Linked DNA regions of Homo sapiens. The protein of the gene in region 1 purifies or fractionates together with the protein of each later gene. This does not show direct contact. Each region holds a gene or a part of one and is shown in the gene's direction. Other genes may lie near its edges.

Region 1 (3,500 bases):
GTCTTTCATGTTAGGTGCTTTTCTCAGTTATCTGATGATACTGCTTTGCTCTTATTTTAACTAAATTGCTGATTAGAAGCCCTGAGATCATGGTTAGGCATTGATTGTGGGCTTCACTGTATGGTGATTTGGCTGGGCAGTTTTGTCTTGGAACTCTGGGTGTCAGTATCTTTAGGGATTCCCTTTTGGACTGGGTTTTCAGTTGACCTTCTGCCTGGAAAGGAGAGGTGGACTCAGAAGGGTTCTCAAATCTTTTGTAAATTGTCCTTTAATTGCCTTGCTTTTAGAAGATAGCCCTGTCTCAGCTCTGGTATCTTACATTTCAGAGACTCCTCCAGAGAATAAAATTCCAGATTTCTGCTGGGTTGGAAGTAGGTGTAGCATCCATCCAACTGAACCGAGGCAGGGAGGGGATATGAGGCTTAGAATGCTCCTTAGGTAGACATTCAGCCAATTCTTCTGTTTTTATCTCCACTTTCACACCCACTTTCAGAAGTACTGCCAATTCTTTGGCATTTGGGGTCTTCTCCAAGGGTTGCTTCTCAGCTTTTCTCATTACAAGTTCAGGAATCCATTTTCTCAGATCTAGGTTGGTTAACTCACATCCATCAGCTCTTCAACTTGCAAAATTTTGTTACTTTGTTTCCTGTCTAATTCTCTTTTTCTCTAAAGTTTTATGCCTTAAATCAGTTTACTCTCCATTCTAATGGGCTATGGGGAGGAAGTGAAAAATCTGTCAACTTTCCTGAAAAGTCTGTCTCTCCACTCTTTGTCCTAAATATTTCTTCTTATACATACACATTCCTATTCTGAGATTGAAGATCTGCTCATTTGCTGATTCAGTTTTAGCGATCTATTATCATTAATTCGGATTCTCCCACTTTATGAATGTGTGCCAAGTTAATTGTAAAGCAAAATAGATATTATTTACTTGCCCAAAAGAGGAAATACCATTCCAGAAATTTCTCATGTAATCCCCTCACTCTGACAGTTGTATAGCCTTAGCTTTGTAAACGTGGGGAACTGCCTTTCTGGGTCCCAGTTTCTTCCTTTTTTACAATTGGAACTATTATACGTTTAGCATGTTTATGTGAAATCATGTAACACACGCCACCTTACTCATGCTAAGAACACATTGAGTATCTATTGAGTTGTCAATTTGAAAATACTACAACCAACAATTCTAACATTGATACTATATTAAACATTTAAAGAAAATCAGCAATTTTAACTCTTGGAATGTCTTATAATTTTTTCTTTAGTGGGTCTAAAATTTAGCTGAAATAATTTTCTGCTTTTATAAAATGTTAAGATGTTATGGATAAAATAATTTTGAAAATTTTCATTCATTCATATTAACAAGCTGCTATTAAGCACTTTGTAAATTTAAACTGTACTAACGTGATGTTTTCTTTATCAGGGCATGAAATTAGTCTTGAGATATGTCAGCATACAAATTGAATGTAATTGGATTAGAAAAATTAGAAAAGGATTAGAAAAATTGAATTTTATCAATAGGTCATCAGTTGTAGTTCTATAAATATGAAAGTGTTAATATTTCAAATCACCCCTGGTTTTAAGATAGCTTGTATTGATTTTTTCTTCCTTTTTTCTCCCCCCAACCCCCGAGAAAAACCAGTTGCTTCAATTCAGATGCTCATTTTTTCTTACTTGGTCTATTACAATAAATTACCAATGGACTTACCTATTTCCAATATCATCTCACTTTATATTTTATTCATTGTAAACTAAGTTTCTAAAATGGAAATTTTAGAATTTCCCTTCTGCTTCTGAAAACACTTCAGTGGCTTTTCATTGGCCCAAACTTTTTGGGGGTAGTATTCAAAAGTTTCATGATTTGGCCCTCATTTGCCTTTCTGATGTCATCATATGTCACTCTCTCCCATATACTTTAATGCAAGTTTTGTGATCTCTGAGTACATGTCAAACTTCTACTTTAACTCCACTTGTCATTTGTGTTATGAAGACTGGAAGCCTTCCTTTTCCCCAGGCTTGGGTGAAGCCAAGTGCTTTACATACCTGGAATGTCTTTGTCACAGTAATTTTCAGTTAGTTTGTAATTGCTCATTTAATTAACTTAGTCCCCTCACTAGATGTGAGTACTTTGAAGGCAGTAATTTTTTTTAAACAATGGGTGCTTAACATTCAATAATAGCTTGTTGATTGTGGTGATTTTATATATTTTGGCAGTTTTTTAATGTTTTATTTTGAAACTGGAGATTGTCATAATTTTACATAGATAAAGTTGGGCATACTCTAATTTAAATATTGAATATGTTTTACAGCCTTCAGTTTGGAAACCTGCAGAATTATGATTGCCATGTTGGATGTATCCTTGAATAGAAATAGAAAATACTAGAATAAAGAGTAATTGCTTTCTGACTATCAAGCCAGTGGTTAGATTTCAGTGCCTGTAGTAAACTAGTGAATTTAAAAATACTTTGTAAGATCCTGTTTAAATTCTAGGCTTTCTAGTTTTTATGCAGAAGTCTGTTCATATAATGAGTTTGGCTAAGTCTACAGAAGCATACTCATGTTTTAGTCAATGATTTAGAGTCAGATAAACTCAGGTATCAGAATTTATTTTTGTTAATAAAACTATCAGAGAGATCACACAGGAAAAATGGGATTTAATGCATTCAAAGAGCTATGGGCAGCTCTTAATGCCTGGAAGGAAAACTTCATGACTGTTGATCAAGATGGAAGTGGCACAGTAGAACATCATGAGTTGCGTCAAGCCATTGGTCTTATGGGTAAGAACATTAACATTCTTTAGAATCTATAAAGCTAATCTTTGTTCTTTGATTAGATGAACTTAATTGCTTCAATTTACTAACTAATAAAGGGATGTATTTTTTTGCCAGCAAGTTCCTTTGTTTGTTTTCAAGGTTGTAGGTAAATTCTGACCAAAGACCTCAACAAAACCATTTTAATTATGATTTTTTTCAAAAGATGATCTTCCATACATGCATACATTCTGAATTTCTTCTGTTGTGTTTAAATTTATTTCTTTGTTAGTACTTACCAGTTAGATTGTATTCTTTTATAACTTGGCAGGATATCTAATTGGGAGCCAAAGCTTGCCTCAGTCAGTCAAAAGTCTGTACAAAATAGGTTTTCAGTGGTAGAAACCATGTTTTTGTCTTTTTTTTCTTAGATAGTGCAGAACACATAGCAGGTGCCAAAATACATCAGGATGGAAAGGTTGCATTTTAGAGTAATTTAGAAGTATATAACTTTATTCTTATACCTCTGATAAGCTGATGTTCCTAGTGTACTTTTAAAATGGATAACATACAATGGTGTTTAATTTGCTTAAACTTAATGCAGTTTTAAGTAGCTTTATGAATTGTTCTTATGCTTGTGATTTACACTCTTCTAAACAAAATCTATTTGTATGAAAATTAATTTTTTGGAAGTTAAAATCTGAACCCAATGGAAGTGGGCTTATCTCAAATTGCAATTTAAATAAGTCAAAT
Region 2 (3,500 bases), on another chromosome or scaffold:
GTCATACTTCAGGGATAAAGGGATACATTTCTGAGCAGCAAAGAAGGGAGACTGGTGGAGTGGTAGCAGCTGGGGCTTTGTATGTTTGTTTTGGCCACTTAGGAATAAAATTCACTTTGGCTAAAGTTTTAACTCAAGCTTTCCTTAGCAATTTATCTTTGATTTGATGCCAAATAAACAGCATTTTAGATGAAAACATAAGCCTTTCTAAGAAGCGAGGGGGTGAAAAACGGGAAGTACTCTGGCAGCCTTCATAGTAATTTTGGCCACAGCCACGAGTATAATAAATATAACTTGCTTTTATTCCATCAATTTGTTGATTAACTGGAATAGTAACCAGCAGTAAGTGTATTTCTGTGTTGTGTTCCAATATTTTAACATTATCATAATTCTTTTGCTAAGAAACCATATCTAACTTCTTAAATCATGAACGATACATTATCTCCTGTGTGGATTTAAGCAACCTTGTGTACTTTAAAAATGGAAATGGTAACCAAATTGAGAACAATGATTAAACACATATGAATGCACTTAATGTTAAATTTACTCATAATCTTGACCATATATAGAAACAGTATTTTTCACTCATCATTTAAGCACTAGAACAAGGACCCACTTTTCTTCTGATAGTTCTTTTCCTAATTCACTGGCGGCCTTTGCTTTGTTTTTAATTTGCCAATTAAAACAATTTCTATACATCTCTGACATTGATATCTCTTCCTTTTTAAACTCAAGAATAGTACATACAGAGTCTGGACTGAAAACTCCCTTGACTCTATCTCGACTATATGTGAGTTACATTACCTGCATTGTTGTTACTCATAAGAACATAGAATCTATGAGTATGTGTGTGTATACTCAGGTTCCCTAGTTATTACAGATACTCAACAAATCAACCTAGCAAAAACCATTCCATCTTTTCCAGGAATTTTAATCGTATCTATTTTTCATTTTCGTTTTCTTTTTTTTTTTTTTTGAGATGGAGTTTCACTCTTGTCGCCCAGGCTGGAGTGTGATGGCATGATCTCAGCTCACCGCAACCTCTGCCTCCTGGGTTCAAGAGATTCTCCTGCCTCAGCCTCCCGAGTGGCTGGGATTACAGGCACCTGCCACCATGCCCAGCTAATTTTTGTATTTTTAGTAGAGATGGGGTTTCACCATGTTGGTCAGGCTGGTCTCAAACTCCTGACCTTAGGTGATCCACCCGCCTTGACCTCTCAAAGTGCCGGGATTATGGGCATGAGCCACCGTGCCAGCCTTTTCATTTTCTTAACACCCAATCTTCAAGTCAAAAAGCTCTTCTGCTACTCTCTTTTATGATCTTGATTTACATCAACAATTGTCTTATTCATGATGGCCAGTGACAGGACAATGACTTTCTCAAAGGTGTCCCTTTATTTTTGGCCAATAGAGATGTTTTGTGTGTCAGCTTCATCACAGAGCAAGATGGAAAAATATAGGCCTCATCAGTCTCATGCCAACCAGAATGGGCCTTCAACTTATGGTGCTGGTTTGATTGAATGGACCACTGCATGAGTGGTCGGTGTCTGGGTTACTGGATTTTCTCTTCTGGTTATGAGTCACTGTTTTTTTCTCAATGTTAAAATGAGTGAAGACCATGACTCTAAACCTGTGACCTTCGCAGAAGGAAAACATTGTTACTGTTGCCATCGGTATTATTTGGCATCTACAAAGTCATAGAACAAAAACTTGCATACATTTTCTCCCTCAGGAAAATCTGAACTTGGCTCTGAACTCTGCCTCAGCCATCGGGTGCCATGTGGTCAACATAGGGGCTGAGGACCTGAAGGAGGGGAAGCCTTATCTGGTCCTGGGACTTCTGTGGCAAGTCATCAAGATTGGGTTGTTTGCTGACATTGAACTCAGCAGAAATGAAGGTAAGAGCAAGTCCCAAAGGTCATTTATGACACAGCTTTCTAATAACTTACGCGTTGGGGACTGTAGGAGGAAGATGTCAGAAATTCTCAAGTTTTGAAAACTACACAGTTATATTGATTCCATGGTATTCATGTCACAGATTCTATACACACAGACCAGACGTTTTTTAATGATAGAGCAAAAGCTTTTTAAGACCATAGACTAACAATAATGTTTGTTTGGAGCATAGGGCTCAGTCTTGAATGTTTGGCACTCTAACCTCAAGAGGTTTTTTCAGAGCTCACTTTGCCTTTAGATATTTGTAACAAATAAGAGGACTTTTAACTTGCACTTTGCGAAGTAAGCAACTCACATTCATATACTATAGTGAAGGTACCAGATTAGGAGGAACTTGGTCTATTTCTTATCAAAACTATAGAGGAAGGTATAGGTCAAAGGGTTCAAGGTTGCAATTATATGGGATGAATAAGTGGAGATCTAAACAGCACGAGGGCTATAGTTAATAATATTGTGCTGTATACTGGTAATTTGCCAAGAAAGTAGATTTCAGGCACTCTTCCTACAAAAAAGAAAGAAAGAAAGAGATAGAGAGAGAAATGAAGAAAGAAAGAAAGAAAAAGAAAGGTAACGATATGAGATGTGAGTATGTTAATTTGCTTGACCAACAGTAACCACCTTACTGTGTATGTGTCTACCAAGATAAGTATACCAAAACATCACGTTACACACCTTAAATCTATGCAGGCTAGAATAAACATTTTTAAAGACCGTAGAAAATTCCATTTAGGGTTTCAGAGTTCTCAACTAAATATGTAGCTGTCAATCTTATTGCGTCTTCTCTCACCATCTTATCTGTATGTAAACAGTGACAGCCCCCTGGCTTAGACAGAGGTAGCCCACCTTGATAAGTATCATGCAAAACACGATGTTATCTTTTAGTTATCAGGTACAAATCCTACCAATATGAAATCTGTAGTCAAGTTCTAATCTTTAGTTATACATACTTTTTTATTTATATGTCCAAATCACAATAACCAATGAAAAATCCTGAAATATTATTTAAAAACCAATGTATTAAACATAATATAAAGAAGGCGGGGGAGAGGAAATAGGGATCTTAGAACCTGTGAGAAAGAATATTGATCTTCAAATAATGACCTCAGCTAAATTTAAACCTTCTAGCTGAGCAAAAAAATACTTACTCATCTGGGAAAACGTAGAGGAGAGTTGATTACATTGTTGAGTTGCTATAATTAGGCAGGTAAGCACTTGAAATATAAAACACCTATGGGAATAGACAAGAGAACATTGTTATTATTACAAAATTGATCTCTTAAAAGCAAAAATGTTGTCATATTGTGAAATGTGGTTTGACAGACCCAGCAAAACATCCGAGCCAGTAGCCTTGGTTATTTTTATGGCTCTGCCCAAATGTTCTTAAACATAGCGTTGAGATTCACTGTGCTTTGTTTTCTCCATCTGGAAAATGGAGATAATAAATAAGCTCACAATGGCTTACGCCTCTTTTTAGGGAATAATAATAAAATATTTAATCCATGGGAAAGGCTACAAGAACCTTTACCCCAAAGAGGTAACGTTGT

What was found. The genes of interacting proteins can lie anywhere in the genome.
Region 2: the proteins of GCA (region 1) and LCP1 purify together in Homo sapiens (affinity purification with western blotting, with the first as the bait; one study listed by BioGRID). This does not show direct contact.

Annotation. Positions count from the first base shown.
Region 1 is NC_000002.12:162,354,132-162,357,631, forward strand, and holds part of GCA (grancalcin), read left to right. Parts: intron 1-2,306; coding exon 2,307-2,350; intron 2,351-2,626; coding exon 2,627-2,774; intron 2,775-3,500. UniProt on the Homo sapiens protein: Calcium-binding protein that may play a role in the adhesion of neutrophils to fibronectin. May play a role in the formation of focal adhesions.
Region 2 is NC_000013.11:46,151,178-46,154,677, reverse strand, and holds part of LCP1 (plastin-2), read left to right. Parts: intron 1-1,732; coding exon 1,733-1,898; intron 1,899-3,500.